Linked DNA regions of Homo sapiens: region 1 is linked to region 2. A link means that fine-mapping ties the variant in region 2 to the expression of a gene that starts in the linked region. Tissue or cell type: fibroblasts. Region 2 holds a variant in brackets; the other region holds the start of a gene. All regions are shown on one strand. Distances are from middle to middle.

Evidence for each region. PIP is the estimated chance that this variant, and not a neighbour inherited with it, causes the effect.
Region 1: HYCC1 starts here. The variant in region 2 is fine-mapped to the expression of HYCC1 in fibroblasts (GTEx, PIP 0.95).

The regions. Positions count from the first base shown.
Region 1 is chr7:23,010,760-23,018,859 of GRCh38, reverse strand. HYCC1 (hyccin PI4KA lipid kinase complex subunit 1) reads left to right here and starts at 4,730. Exons shown (of 11, transcript NM_032581.4): 1 at 4,730-4,935. RefSeq lists enhancers at 4,400-4,579, 4,740-4,929, 5,347-6,028 and a silencer at 5,120-5,389.
Region 2 is chr7:22,878,419-22,886,525 of GRCh38, reverse strand. The region is part of intron 3 of LOC107986776 (a long non-coding RNA gene); the gene reads left to right. It also overlaps the pseudogene RPL12P10. Among named protein-coding and RNA genes, the nearest start is that of SNORD93, 26 kb to the right of the region's middle. The variant T/C (reference allele first, on the strand shown) is at 4,838.

The sequences.
Region 1 (8,100 bases), 130 kb before region 2:
CACTTTATACGTCTTGACGCTACCTAATGGCTTCAGTTTACTGAAAACGTGCCCTTTTTATAGCTTCTCAGGGCTTCTTTCTACTGACTGATTTTTTAGCTTCTGCTTCCACCACGTGATTTTCTCTTCCTATTTCCAGTTCAAATTCTTGAAAGAGAGTGGGTGTTCATGTCAGGTCACCTCTTGAGGTTGGCTGCCCTTGGGTTATACAGTTCATGAAGGGGGTTGTATGGTATAGATCATGGCTCAGGTTGCTGCCTCAGCTGGGTCCACTGGCTGGGGTAGTTCCCTTAAAAAGGGAATCTGATATAGCAAGCCCTTGAATGACCTCTCAGGCACACTCTTTTTGTTTTGACTTCATTTCTTTGATTTTCTTTTTTCTTAAAGAATGTTTAACATACCACAAAAGCAACATTTTGACATATTTTTCATGTTTTTTTAAACAAAATTCTTTTTAATTTAAAATAATCATGTTATCTATTTTAACCATTTTAACAACAGTTGTTGTCCAATTGACTTTAATAGAAATATATAATATTTGAACTAGGCCGGGCATGGTGGCTCATACCTATAATCATAGCACTGTGGGAGGCCAAAGTGGGCAGATCACTTGAGGCCAAGAGTTCGAGACCAGCCTGGCCAACATGGTGAAACCATGTTTCTACCAAAAAAATACAAAAATTAACCAGGCACGGTGGCACACACCTGTAGCCCCAGCAAGTCAGGAGGCTAAGGTACGAGAATCGCTTGAACCCAGGAGGTGGAGGTTGCAGTGAGCTAAGATGGTGCCACTGCACTCCAGCCTGGGTGACAGAATCAGACTCTGTCTCAAAAACAAAACGAAACAAAGAAAGGAAAAGAAAAAGAAAAAAAGAGAAAGATATTTGAACTAAATTTTTCTTAAAATTCCTGAAATTTAATGTCATAGGGAAAATGTTTATGTTTATAATGTTCAACTGGCACTTTTATACAGTTATTTGCAAGAAGATAAATGCATTTTAATAGTTACTTTAGAATTATGCGTGTGGATATCAGAGACTAGCAAAGATGAGCAGGAAAGATCTGGAATATGTTGACTTTTATAAAGTAGGTTAAAAGCATTTTCCTTTTGAAACAGAATGTTCTCTTAGGCATTTTTTCTGGTGCTTTGCGATTAAAATATAAACGGCTATGTGTAAAACTTAACTGCAGACTGTTATTGTTGGAAATTATTTTTATATGCACAAATTGTGATGGAAAGGAGAGTAGACTGGAAACATAAATTTGTGCTTTCGTTTTACTCTGACTTAGAGGGAAGACAACTTAAATTGCCTTCTATACTACCTTACCACTGCAAAATGGGAAGTGAAGTCAGGCAGTAAACTGCTTCCTGTCTTCTTGCAGGAAGGAAACAAATTATATATAAATATACATAGCCAAACTTCAGTTTCTCTCCACTCAATCTATCCTATGCACGGCACTGATTTGGCACTAGTAACATGTTATATTATTTCCCTTTTGTCAACCTTGGGTGTATATTAGAACCACTTGGGAAGCTTTTTTAAAAACCCAATGACTAGCCTCACACACCAATTTATTTATTTATTTACTGTGGGGTGCGGTTTGAGTACTGATAATTTTGAAAGGCATCCTAAGTGATTCTAATGAGCAGACAGGAAGCCACAAGGCAAAAGGAGAAAATCTGAACAACTGAGCTTGCCTTCAAGGTGTTCTATTATCTATCTGCAACCTAGCTTGCCAGGCTTGGCTGACTCAAGTTGCCTCCCATGCCCTCTGAACATTGCTTGTGCTTCCCCTCTTGTGTTATTTCTCCAGGCATTCTGGGAGTTACTTTCTCACCATTTTATCTGGTTCAAATTCCTCCCCAGTTTTCTAGACCCAGCCCATTTTGCCTTTTTCATGAAGCCTTCCCTGACTGCCCTTGACTGCAGTGCTTGCATCCTCCTCTGAAAACACAGCGGCTAATGCCTAGAAAATCATTTGAACAATGAATCGATTATGTACTGCCTTATGTAATCTCTCCACTGCTGCATTAAATAATTACTTTAATCTTTGCTTAACCTTTCATCTGTTTGTTATGCAGCTAACTATACTATAAGCAAGCTTCTAGCATTCATCTGTATCCTTGACAAGCCACGTGCCTTGTACAGTACAGGAAGTCAATAATATTTACCTGTCCCTTCCATCCTGACTTCCACAGGTTTGGTTCGAGATTCTCTCCTGGAATCTTGTCCTGGTCTTGGCTGGGCTTCCTGCCACCAGAAACTTTGGCTCTTCAAATCAGGTCAACACATTACTGGCACACATGGCCAATGGCCAGTAAAACTGATGGTGTGTGTGTGTGTGTGTGTGTGTGTGTGCATGCGCGTAGGTGTGCACTCTTTTGCCCACTCTTGTTTCTCTCTATCTTATGATCTGGCTGACTCGGTTTCTTTCCTTCCTTGGTCCCTCACTCTCCTACTCAATGGGACTTGACGGCAGAATTCAACGTCTCAGGTTTTGACTGCTTGTGTTCTCTAAGATGAATAACATGCTGCCTGGATCTTCCTCTCCCTATTTCTTTGAGTAAACACTTGTCCTGAACAGGCTCTGGCCAAGGGGACCTAAATTAAGTCAGTCTGATCTGTCAAGAATTTCCTCTCTACCCTGTTTTTTTTTCTTTGGATTCTCACCATTTAAAAGAAACCTGATTGCATTGTCCACATGATTAAAAGCTGTTGTCTGTCCCTCATTGCCTTAAGAAGAAAATCTAAACCTGAGCTATCCAATATGGGAGTTGTTAAAGTTAAAATTAAAAATTAATGCCAGACATGGTGGTTCACACCTGTAATCCCAGCACTTTGGGAGGCTGAGGTGGGTGGAGCACCTGAGGTCAGGAGTTCGAGACCAGCCTGGCCAACATGGTGAACCCCTGTCTCTACAAAAAATACAAAAATTAGCTGGGTGTGGTGGTGAGTTCATGTAACCCCAGCTACTCAGGAGGCTGAGGCAGGAGAATTGCTTGAACCTGGGAAGTGGAAGTGCAGTGAGGTAAGATCCCACCACTGTACTCCAGCCTGGGTGACAGAGGGAGACTCTGCCAAAAAAAAAAAAAATTAAAAATTGAGTTTCAGCCGTGTATGGTAGTTCATGTCTGTAATCCCAGCACTTTGGGAGGCTGAGGTGGGAGGATCACTTAAGCACTCTACCCCAGTTTGGGTGACAGAGTGAGACCTTGTCTCAAAAATAAATAAATAAATAAATAAATACATTGAGCTCTTCAGTCACACCACATTTCAAGTATTTGATAGCCACATGTGGCTAATGGCTACTATTTTGGACAACACAAATATAGAACATTTTCACCAGTGCAGAAAGCTCTGCTGGACAGTGCTTGTCTGAATATCTTAGTGTAGCTTGTGAGGTCTTTTACAATCTCACCTCAACCTTTTGCTCCAGCCCAATTTTTGGCCGTTCCTCATCATTTAACCCCATCTACCTTCTCAACATTCCACAATGGCTCTGTGCCCTTTCACAGCTCCATGCCTTTGAACATGGTGTTCTCCCTTTCTGAAATACCCTTTGACTTTCTTCTCTGGCAAACTCCCATTTACCTTTTAAGATCCAACTCAAACATTACCTTCCTTGTGGAGTTCGCTGACTTTCCTAAACAGTCATTTCTTGTCCTCTGTTTCCATTGCTCATTGAACCAATCTCTATTGTCCTTATCACTGTAGTTTGTTATTATTTACTCATTAATCTGATCCTCCCTTTGGAGGGGGATCCTATCTGTTTTAGCAATCTGCCCTAATAATTACCTGAAATTGTTTGCTTGATACCCTTTTGATATCAAGTAATATATCTTCTTATTTATGTGCTTGTTATTTATGAGTTCAGCATGTTTGAAAAGTTCACTTAGTGTTTCTGGAGAAATCCTGCCCATTTCTAGTGTAAAGCTAGAATGAACTTCCTGTCTTCTAGGGTGGAGGTCAGTTTTTCTTCTAATTAATCCTGACCAGTCTTGAGAAGGATGTGGTAGGAGAGGTTTACAAGGTCAAAAACAGCAGTACTGTCTGCAGGCGCAGGTTCAGGTGTTCTCGGGTTCCAGTTATTATACAAAACATTTAGTATATGTTCAGAGAAAAAGTAGGGAGGAATGATGGAAAAAATAAAAACAACCCCCATGGAAAGAAAACTGAGGCATCGTATTTGACTTTTTCCAGGCTAAGCCCAAAAGCAATGATGTAGTGAGGGGGAAGTTTGTATTTCCATTTTGCAAAAACGTAATTTTTTTTTCCTCCCGGGATTTGATAAGATTTTGATAAATTCTTGTGAATTTAATTACAGGGAAGTAAATCCTACTGACTAGTAAATTATCAATTTGTTTCTCTTTTCTCACAAAAGAGAAACAAATTGATACCCTTCACATCATCCGGTAAGGTTTATTTTTTTCTGAGAAGGCCATAAGCCCTAACGGCTCAGAATCTAAGAGACCTTCGCTGATTGTCATCGCCTAGCGGCCACCGCAAACCTTACAGTCAATCAACTTCCCTCGGACGCCCGGATCACGCCCATTGCTCAGACCACGCCCACTCAAGGCGCCTCATGGCTCCGCCCCAGGCCCAGCAGAAGAAGATTCTCATTGGTGGAGAAGTTGTTCTGATCCCGCCCCGGAGGACGGCGATAGGCTGAACTGGCGTGGGGCGGTGGTGGTTGGCTGCTTGAGGACGGGTCCCTGGTCGTGCCTGTCAGAGAGGCTGGCGGCAGTGGTGGCTCTCCCGGCTGGGTTGTCAGTCAGTGAGAGGAGGGGGAAGATGGCTCACCGGGACCCGTTCTGCTAGGAAGAAGGGGAGCAGGTGGTGCTGCTACTCGGGAGGAAGCAGAGCAGCCTCCGTCGCTGTCGCTGAGAGCCTCACGAGTCGAGGTCCTGCAGGTGGAGCTCCGGCAGCCGCCCTGGTGAGTCCAGCCGAGAGACCCACGCCGGGCCCCCAGGGCGTCCGGCAACGGATAACTTTTTTTTGTCAGGGAGGAGCCGGGGCGAGGCGGCGGCGAGGACAGGACCGGGACTTTGTCCCTGGGGCCGCGGCTCCACTGGGGGTAACGGCTCCCGCGCGAGGCGCCATGGGTGGGTGCGAGGCGGCGCGGGGCGCTGGGGGCGGCTGGCGGGCGGGTGGGCTGCGGCCGGCGCTGCTCGCCCCGAAGTTGGGCGCAGCCTGCCCGCTGCCTGGAGGGCGGCAGCTTTGTGCGCGCGACTCGGGTCTTTCCTTCCCGGCGAGGAGCAGTCCAGCCTCCTGCTGTGACCCGGGTGCCGCCGCCTCGGCCCCACCGGCCGCCCCTCTGCCGGGTGGGCCTGGGGCGGGAGCCCCCCGTCCCCTCCCTGCCGCGGCGGATGCTCTGGCCTCTGCCTCCTCTCCCACTCGCGCCCTCTACTTCGGCGAGGCCGCCACTGTCCGTCCGGTCTGGTGGCCACAATGGTCACTGTCGACCCCCCGCCCTCGCCCCCTGGAGAGCAGCGTTGGCCCGAGTCGGTCTTTGGTCCCCTGCAGGGCGGAGAGGTTCAGACAGCAGCCACGCTTCCTTCCTTGGTTATTTCGCTGAAGATCTCTTCTTGAGCCCTTGCCCCTTCTTTCTATGAGTTATTCCTCTCCTGAGGCTCATTTTAACATACTCGGGAATCCTCGGGGGTTTGGCTGAAAATGGTTGCATTAAAACACCCCCAAGTTTGTACGCTTCCCCGAAATTTGCTGTCTGCCCGTCAGCTTGCACATGTGTGCTTTGTGAGTTTAGACATTCCTGAAAGATTTTAATTTTGCCTAAGTGGTTTAGTACTGCACAGAATCTGCTCTCTGAGAAATACACTATCACAAGCCTGGCAGCCGCGGCGCTCTTCAGGTAGGGGGAATTTGTTCCACCGGCAGCTACTTCTTATCTCAGAGACTGCCCTACAGGCAGTAGGGCCAAGCTGACCTTTTGCAAATTATTTATCCTTGGATCACACAGTAGTTTTTGGAGCAGGTGGGCCACCTCTTTGGTTCATGTAACACTTTACAGTTTGAGGTTTTCAGCTTTCAAATCTTATTGCCATAAAGTCAGAAAGACTGGGAGGCTTGTTTTCCATGAAAACATTCTACTGCTAACATCCACAGGCACCCCACCTCCCCCGACATTTCCAAGTATTTTTTTTTCTTTAGGTGAATACATTTTAAGGTTTACAGGATGAATAGTAGTCTAAACCACCATATTTTTGAAGTGCAGGCAAAGACAAGGAAGGAAAAACATTTAAGATCTGCTTGGCCAATAGTGGCTTCAAAGTCAGCTATTCAAATAATCAGTTCAATCAAACCAAGTGGCAAGGGGGAAAAGCATCACATATTTAGGAAACAAATTCTGGATTTGGCTCGTTTATCCTTATTCGATTTATTGAAATTACCATGAGGGATTAGAAGGATTAGAAACCTTCTTAGTCATCGGCATTAGCAGTACCTGGATACAGACACCCGATAAGGCATTAGCTGGGTCAGCGTTTATCCTTGCTCTGCTTCCTTTCATTGTTGTATTTCTGTTTTATGAAATTTGCTCTGGGTTGTATTTTTTAGACTGGTGTCTTTGACGGTGAGTTTAAATATATGTACTGTTTTATTCAGCATCCTGTTGCCTAATATTTATTTTATAATGGATCTTAAGAAATTTTAAGAAATCTTAGTATTCAAGACCTATTTTGGGGTATCGTTTATATTTTATAAATGATTGAAATTATATCAAACATAAATTTATTTTTTCACTCTTCCAGGCTGAGTAGGTACTAGGGATACAGAAATGAATGTCATAGCTCTTGTCTTCAAGGAATTTACTATCTAACATACAAGATGTTAGTAACATTACAGTAAATTAACAATTATAATACTATGTAGTCAGTGGGAATAGAGATATGCCTAGTGTAGTAGGAGAGTTTAGAGTAGGAGATAGTTAACTTGCCTTGAGTGTAGGTGGAGTTGGGAGCACACAGCCAAGTTGTGAAGGATGATATGATTTTGCCAAGTGCAGGAGGTAAGTAACTTCCCAAGAGGAGGATATAGTAATTGAGAAGGCAAGGAGGCCTGAGAAACTGTGGCAATTTAGATAAGTCATTGACAATGACGAGTCAGTGTCAATTGACATTGGCAGTTGACAAAGTCAATAACATTGACATTGATATGGCTTGAATGCAGGGGTTAGTAGGAAATGGTGCCAGATGAAGATAGTGAGGGTGGTAGAGGGCCAGATCAGGGAATGGTATCCTTAGCTAAAGGGATTGGATTGAACGTGATAGATGAGAAGCCATTTATTGGATTTGTATTTTAGACCTTTACTGTGGCAGAGTGAGGGAAAAACTAACAAGTCCTAATCACCTATGAGAAGAAAGGAGGACTCAGGACTGTGAAGGTTTGACTTGGGGTTCTGTTGATGGAAATGAGGAACACAAAAATGGAAGGAAGATGATAAATTCTGTTTTGGCTATTTTGAATTTGAGGAAGCAGTGGAACTTCAGGCGAAGATATAGATAGATGTTTGTATCTGTGGATGTGAAAATCAGGATTAGAGAGATGATTGGGGGTTGAATTGAAGCTATATTGATTTAGTTGTGATGAAATGACTCAGGGAAAGCCTTTAGCCTGGTGAAAGTGGCAGCCAGAGAACAGACTCTCATAAATAGCAGAAGTAGGAAGAAGAATTGTCTGAAAGTTAGAGGAATAGTAGCTAGCAAGGTAGGAGGACCATCAGGAAAGATGCCAAGGGCGGGGAGATTTTCCAGTGGAGGAGGAACAGGTTAACAATTTTGAATGCTGTAAGGAGGTGTCAAGTTAGGAGAGGGCCCCAGTGACCACTGAATTTGTCAGGAGTCCATAGGTAACTTTAACAAGAACAGTTTTAACTGAGTGGTGGTTCAGAAACCAGGCTTCAGAAGATTGAGAAAGAATGGGTGTGATAAAGTAGACATGCTTAAGTGAGACTTTTCAAGAGAACTGAAATAAAGAAGGGAGAAAATGATAGCTATAGCTTTCATTGAGTAGTGGTTCTCAATCTTGGCTGTGCATTTACAATAATGTAATAATAATTTACAATAATCTCAGGAACTTTAAA
Region 2 (8,107 bases):
ACTTGCTGAAGGGCTAAGCGTTATGTCTACAATTTATCTTCCACATATATTGAAAACTTAGAGAAAAAAGCAAATGTGGTAAATATTAGAAGTAGTTAAATTTAGATACTGGGTGTATGGGTAGTCATTGAACTAGTAATTAAAGGTCTGTGAATCAGTTGGAATTGCTTCTGGCTGCAAATAAAACTCAACTGACAAGAGTTTCAATTTTAAGAACCTTCAACCTTGGCTAAACAAGAATTGCAGCTGTTGTCCATTTAGTGTTGGTGCAGCCACTCAGTGATGCCATTGAGACCCCATGTTGATCTATCCATCTGCCTTGTCATTTTCAGCAGATTGGCTTCTGACACTGTCAATTCATGATTGCAAGACAGCTGCTGCAGCTGTAGGCACTGTCACACTCCCAGACAGGATGTGGGTGGGGAAGAGCAAAAGCAAACTCTCCTCTTGCACTTGCATCATTTATCAGAAAGCAGATTCTTTCCCTGAAGCCCCCAGGAGACTTCTACTTATACCTCACTGGCCAGAATGGTCCTATGCCAATCCTAGCTACAGGGTAGTCTAGGGAAGGAAATCACCACGTGGAATTTATATCTACTGTGATTCATCCCCTTGGGCTACAGGTGTACTGTCACCCTGAACAAAAGTGGTGTTAACAAAAAAAAAAAAAAAAAAAAGAAAGTTAAAAAAAAGGAGAAAATGGAAGCTGTTTGTCATTGGCTAAATAGATACCCTTTTTCTCTGGAAGGGAAATTGTTCTGTTCCACAAGATATCAGAAATGATTTTTAAATGAAACTAAAACTCTTGCCACATGACATCAGATTGATGTTTAACAGAAAGATAAATGGTGCCTGAAAGGAGTTTTAGTTTCTTGTTCTTCTTTAGCTCAGGAAAAACAGAAAGTTTTTAGCTATCTATGGAAACTATTTTTGCTTAACTTTCGATTTTGGTAATACATTTCAATATACAGTTTACTTCCCACAATTGTTTTCATTGTGATAGACATTGTGAGGCAGAACAGAATATTTATTTCTACTCATCATATTATTAGCCACCGTTTGTTGAGTGTCCCTTATATGCAAGGCATTATAATAGGTGGTTACATCTTCTCTCATTTATGTAAGAGGATGTGCCTGGCTGTTACAAAAAGCCCTAGATCAAGTCTGAGTCATCAGACTTAATAAAGAAGAAGAAAACGGAAAGTTTTCAACAACCATTCTAATTTCTACTTCATTCCCAGCCTGTGTGAGGCCACTATAATAAGATACTCTTGACATCTGGGCTCTTAAAATGGAAATCCATTTATTGGTTAAAACAAAGAACAGCCATAACTAGAATTCCCTTCTGTTCCCTTCCCTATCCCTTGGCCCAAGGGTAGGGTTTCTTTTAGAAAGGAAGCAAGACACTCATTGTAGAGTCTTAGCTCAGTAATAGCCACCTAACCATCACTGGGGGCCACAGTCATGTGTCCTGGAAAGGCATAGAAGGCGTGACCTATGCCCAGAAGGTTTCTGTGTGTGAAGTCCTTCATCATGAGGCCATTTGGTGATGATTTAGCATGTGGTGTGGATGACTGAGGTCCAGCTTCTAACTCTGGTTGACTGCCGAGAGATGCCGTGAAGTGCTGTGTTGTTTTCTGGAGTCTTAGCAAAGAAGAGAAGCATAGGCTGACAGCACTCTTGGCCTACCCCATGGCTCTTGGCCATTTGTTGTCTCAGGTAAGCCTAGTTAAAGAGAAGCCCAACAGAGCCAAGGCTGGCAGAGAGGACCAAGAGGCTATAGACTGGTGGGTTGAAGTGAAGGTAGTGGGTACACCACTGGGAAACTAGACACTGGTTTCTGAAGGAAGAAACCATTCAGAAGGAGAAGGGCCAGAGGAACCTATGAACATCCAGGTCAGGAGATGAAAGTTAGATCAACGTCTGGCAAATTAGCAGAGAGTAGACATGGACAGAGAGCAGAGCAATGCCTGGGTGGAGCTTGTAGAGTCTCCTACTGCGTGTTCCTTCATTTAACAAAGATTTTGTTAGTATATACTATGTGCCAGAAACTGTTCTAGGTACCAGAAATATAGTAGTGAACAAAACAGACAAAGATTCCTGCCCCTCATTCTCCGTGTAGTCATAATTTGTTTTTTCCACTTACATTCTAGTGAGGAAAACAAATTATAAACAAGATGTATGAATAAATTATAAGTAAATTATGTAGTATGTTAGTGGCAAATAGTAAGCAAAAAAATAATGCAGCAAAAAGAGATAAAGGAGTGTAAAGATGCTGTGCTTACAACATAGTGGCCACTAGCCTTGTGTGGCTGATGATATTTAAATTAGTTAAAGTTAAAAATTCCATTTCCATGTCATACAAGCCACATTTCCAGTGCTCAAAAGCCTCATAGTGGCCATCCTATTGGACAGTGAAGATAAAGTTTCATCAAGCACAAAGTTCTGTTGGTCAGTGCTTTTATAAAGGGTGCAATATTTAGGTGGGGTGGGTAGGGAAGGTCCTACTGCAAAGATAACTTTTAAATAAAGACCCAATGGAGTTGATGGGGTTGATGGGCTGATGGCCTGACTCCTGAGCCTGCCTAGAGGAAGAGTATTCCAGACAGAGGGAATGGCAAGTGCAAAGGTTCGGGAGATGGGAGTGAAGTCCATGTGGCTGGAGCATAGTCGATGGGGTAGGGTAGTAGAGGAGGTCAGAGAAGTGAATGGAGGGAACAGATCCTGAGGCCCTTGTGGACCTTTGTAAGGACTTTGTATTTTACCCTACGTGAGATGAGAACCATTAGAGGTTTTGAGCAGAGGAGTTTCATGATCTGACTTAGATTTTTAATAGAACCCCTCTCGCTGCTATGATGAGGATAGATTGAAAGTGGGCCAAGGCACAGATAGGGGATAAGTGAGGGGATATTGCAATAACCCTGGAAAGAGGTGGGGGTGTTTAGGCTGGTAGCAGTGGTGGTGGTGAAAAGTAATCAGATTCAGGATATTCTTTTGAAGGCTCAGGCAACATGATGCCTGACTGGGGTGTAGGGTTTAAAAGAGAGAACAGATGAAGGTTTTCTGGTCTGAGCAACAGGAAGAATGGAGTTTTCACTCACTAAGATGGGGAAGCCGGGGGTGGAACGAGTTTGAATGGAATAAGATCAGGAGTTCCGTTTTGGACATGTTAAATGTGATACGCCTACTCAGGCTCCCATGGATGTTGGACAAGTGGTGGTTGCTGGACTTAGAAATTTGGGACTTGTCGGCCTTGTGGTATTTTAAATCATGAGGCTGGTGATATCCTTAAAGGAGTGGGTTTAAATAGAAAATAGAAGAGGTGGCCAGGCTCACTCCTGTAATCCCAGCCCTTCGGGAGGCCAAGGCAAGTGTATTGCTTTAGTCCAGGAGCTTGAGACCAACCTGGGCAACATGGTGAAACCCTGTCTCTACTAAAAATAAAAATTAAGAAATAGCCAGACATGATAGTGCATGCCTGTAATCCCAGCTACTCAGGAGGTTGAGGTGGGAGAATCATCTGAGCCCGGGAGCTCAAGGCTGCAGTGAGCCGAGATCACACCACTGTAATTCAGTCTCGGCAACCAGAGTGAGACCCTGTCAAGAAAGGAAAGAGAAGGGAAGGGAAGGGTAGAGGAGGAGAGGGCAGGGGAGGAGAGTGGAGGGGAGGGGGTCCAAGACCAGATGCTTGAGGACGCTAAAGATAGGAGGTTGGTAAAGGAGGCAATAGAAGGAGCAGCCAGTGTTGGAAGAGAAAAGCCAGGAGAAGGGGGTGCATGAAGCTTAGTGAGGCAGGGTTCACAAAGGAGGAAGGGAGCAAGGTGTCACATGCAGAGATGAGCACTCAGAACTGACAGCTGGATTGCACCCTGTGGGGGGTAATTGATGACCTTGTGAGGAGTAGATATGTTGAGAGATGGGGATGAAAGTTGTTCACAGTGGGTTGAGGGAGAATTGAAGCAAGAACAAATGATCCTTTCAAGATATAAAGGTGAGTAGAGAGCTGGGGTAGTAGCCAAGAGAAGAACAGGGAGGCCAAGAGAAAGTTATTGTTGCTGTTTTTGTTTTTTTGTGTTTTTTTTTTTTTGTTTGTTTTTCAAATGATCCTTTATTGAAATATTTTCCTTTGTGCTTCTTAATTAGCTGGGCATTCCACAGCACCACCGTTGATGTCATCTATGATATCATGAGGGTGGCAGCCATCAACATTGCAGCCCACAGACTGGGGAGTCCCCAGGATCTCTTTAATGATTCCAGAGAGTTCTCTGGCTAAAGATCGGTGCCACATGTGTTGAGCAACATTGACAATCTCATCAAAAGTGATATTTCCACTGTGTTTAATGTTTTTCTGTTTCTTTCTGTCTCTTGGCGGTTCCTTGAGGGCTTTGATGATCAGGGCAGAGGCAGAAGTCACCACCTCAATCTGGGCCTCTCTGTTCTAAATGATCAGTTTCACTGTAATCCTCAGATCCTTTCAGTCACCAGTTGCTTTAGCAATGTCATCACCAACCTTTTCTGAAGACAGACCTAGGGGGCTGATCTTGGGGGCCAACACAGACGTGGCACCCACTTCATCCCCAGTACACCTTAGGTATGTGACTTTGATCTCATTGGGGTAGAACTTCGGCAGCATGGCAGAGGTGGCTAGATTCAGGACGACCCAAGAAAGTTGCACCTTGGCCTCCTCCCAGCTGAAAGCTGAAAGCCTTGTTGCTGTTTTTTGAAGAGATTCTTGGAATAACAGCTTGTTTGTAAGACCTAGTAAAGAGAACGTTTGAGGACACATGAGCAGGGGGGAAGAAAGACTGGAGGGAAGAGGGATGTGGGGGGGAATTGG[T/C]CTGTGCCAGGAGCCTGGAGACAGGAGGAGTGGCAGAGCCCAGGGCCTGGGTGCAGGCAGGGGGGCAGGTGTGGGGATGAGAGCTCAAGGAAGTCCTCTCCCATGCTTTTTAGATCTTTAGTGACACAGGAAACACAGTCATCAGTGCAGAGTGAGTGTGGGAGAATTTTCAGGAGAGAAGAGAGGTCATTTAGGGAAGTGGGAATGTCAGTGGACACGAGAAATGCAGTCCAATGGCAGCCCAGCCCAAGGACCAACCTGGTGCTGAGACTTTGAAGGGAGACTAGCCAGTGAGGAGTGATCTTCTCCTGGCCAGACCCTCTACCCAGACTGGGCCAGATGGAAGATCCTGACACATTCCAGAGAATTCCTGCTGTGGCAGGCTAGCTCCCAAGAAGCTCTTTCCACCAGCCGATGGGCCAGTGGGGTTGGCTTGAGCAGACTGTGGTTCCAGCACTTTAATGCAGTTTCTGTCACTGGAGGATTTGTCCAGTGCTGGGGTGTGGAGTGACAGCAAAACCCTGATGCCTCAGGCATGGCTGAAGTGCTGAAGCACAGAGGGTGCACCTGGGGAGAGGCCACAGGGTTGGTGACCTCTGCGGGTGTGAATGACCCCAGGCACTGTTTCAGTGTTGGGGTGGGTGGCTGGGTAGTGCTCCTGTGTCAGGGGTTGACATGTCCAGAGTCAATGTCCTTCCTCAGTGCCATATGCCAACCTTTAGGTTCCAGAGGGCCTTTTGAGTGACCTGCCATGGTTCCTCCATGACTAGCTTCTGGGGTGATGGGGTGGCACCTCACCCTGTCTAAGCTGAAACTTATCACACTGGGTTGTAATTCATGGTCTATTTGCTGTTATCCCTGGGCTGTAAGTGTAAGAACCCTCTCCAACTTTCTTACCACTTTATCCCCAATGCCTGGCAAAATACCTAAATACATGAATACATACAAGAGGGCAGGTGAGAAGGAAGGATGGGAGGAAGGAAGAGGGAAGGAAGGAAAAAAGAAGGGAAAGAAAAGAAAGGAAGGGAGGAGGGGAGGAAGGAAGGAAAGGGTAGATATGGAATCCCTGCCACTATAGCAGGGCTATTCTGCTGAGGGTTGCAATGATGGATCTGAATCAGTGGTAGCCTCCATAGGGGATGTGGCGATGAGGTAGGGTAGAAGGCAGTGGGTGCCATAAAGAGGGCTTTCAGCAGGGCTCTCTAAAACCAGGAAGACACACATGAGATTGCAGGGCATAACCAGGAAGACTGGGATGCCACTGCCTGGCCAGATGGGGGTCTGATCCACTCTCCTAAATGACCTCTCTTCTCTCCTGAAAACTTTCCCACACTCACTCTGCACTGATAACTGTGTTTCCTGTGGCACTAAAGATCTAAATCAGAACCGCATTTCTGACCCCCATTTATGACCCCCATTTCTGATGGGCATCAGAAAGGTGAAAATAAGGAGTGATGGTCAGGATGGGCAAGAGGAAGCAGGAAAGGAGTCCTGGCAAGTAGCTGAGACAGGCCCTGGCCCCCAGCTCTGTGGGGAAGGTGCAGGGTGAGTGTGTTGAAAGGCTGGAGAGGAGGCCGCCTGCAGCTGGGAATCCACAGAGGGCTGTATTAGTCCATTTTCACACTGCTGATAAAGACATACCTGAGACTGGGAAGAAAAAGAGGTTTAATTGGACTTACAGTTCCACATGGCTAGGGAGGCCTCAGAGTCATGGTGGGAGGTGAAAGGCTCATCTTACATGGTGGCGGCAAGAGAAAATGAGGAAGAAGCAAACGCAGAAACCCCTAATAAACCCATGAGATCTTGTGAGACTTATTCACTACCACAAGCATAGCGCAGGAAAGACTGGCCCCCGTGATTCAATTACCTCCCCCTGGGTCCTTCCCACAACACGTGGAAATTCTGGGAGATACAATTTGAGATTTGGATGGGGACACAGCCAAGCCATATCAGGGCACAGCAGCTTTGGTGATCCACCGCTCCTTCCTGCTCCTCCCAGGTAAAGGGGAGTCTCTCTCCAGACTTGATTCATCCCTTCCCTTTCTTATTCCTCTCCGACTTTCGCACCTTCCACCCCAACCTCTGGATTTTGTCTGCAGTTATCCTTTCTCTTTTCAATAGGCCTCTGTACCCACTGTTCTCCCAACCTGGAGAGCTGTCTCTACCCCTAATCCTCACTTGCTAGTTCAGTTCCTTCTTGGCCCTCAGATTTTGCCGTGGGGCAACTTCCTGCCATTTTTACATACTTTCATTGCATTCTGGGCTACTTCCTTTATGGCACATATATCAATGGAAATGCCTTGCTTATTTCTCTATTTCTAGACTTAAGAAAAGGGATACAGGTGGATATTTCCCTAGCGGTCCCTCAGTGACAAATGAATGAAGACAACTTTGTCAAAAGAAAACAAAATCCCTGAGAATCCCCTAACTTGGTGCCTGTATTTTTATCCAGCACTGGTGTACTCTCTAAAAGCAAATTCATGCTAAACAGCATTTTACTCTTTCTGATTAGCTGGCAAAATTTGCTCCAAATAAATAATGTATATATATTTATTGTTTAATAATGCTCGTGGTTTAAATACATGTGTTTTAGGAGCAACTTTGATTTACCTCATGAGTCCAAGATTTTTTATTTTTATAAGTTGTGCCTTATGAATGTGGGTAAGAGAGGAATCAAAATGAAATTAATCTTTTATCTTTGGATGGTTAAGAGAACTGCAATATTAAGGACATTAGGATGTCTCAAAATATTAGATGCAAAAATGTGTATTTTTGTTTAAATATGTTTGAATTATCAAATATAGAACAAATAGAGGAAGGTGGCTGGGTGTAGTGGCTCATTCCTGTAATCCCAGCATTTTGGGAGGCCAAGGTGGGCTGATCACTTGAGGTCAGGAGTTCAAGACCAGCCTGGCCAACATGGTGAAACCCCCGTCTCTAATTTATTTATTTATTTATTTATTTATTTGAGATGGAGTCTCACTCTGTCACGCAGGCTGGAGTGCAGTGGCGCTATCTTGGCTCACTGGAACCTCTGCCTCCCAAGTTCAAGCGATTCTCCTGCCTCAGCCTCCAGAGTAGCTGGGACTACAGGTGCACGCCTCCACGCCTGGCTAATTTTTTATATTTTTAGTAGAGATGGGGTTTCACCATATTAGCCAGGATGGCCTCGATCTCCTGACCTCATGATCCACCTGCCTCAGCCTCCGAAAGTGCTGGGACTACAGGTGTGAGCCACAGTGCCCGGCCAACCCCATCTCTATTAAAAAT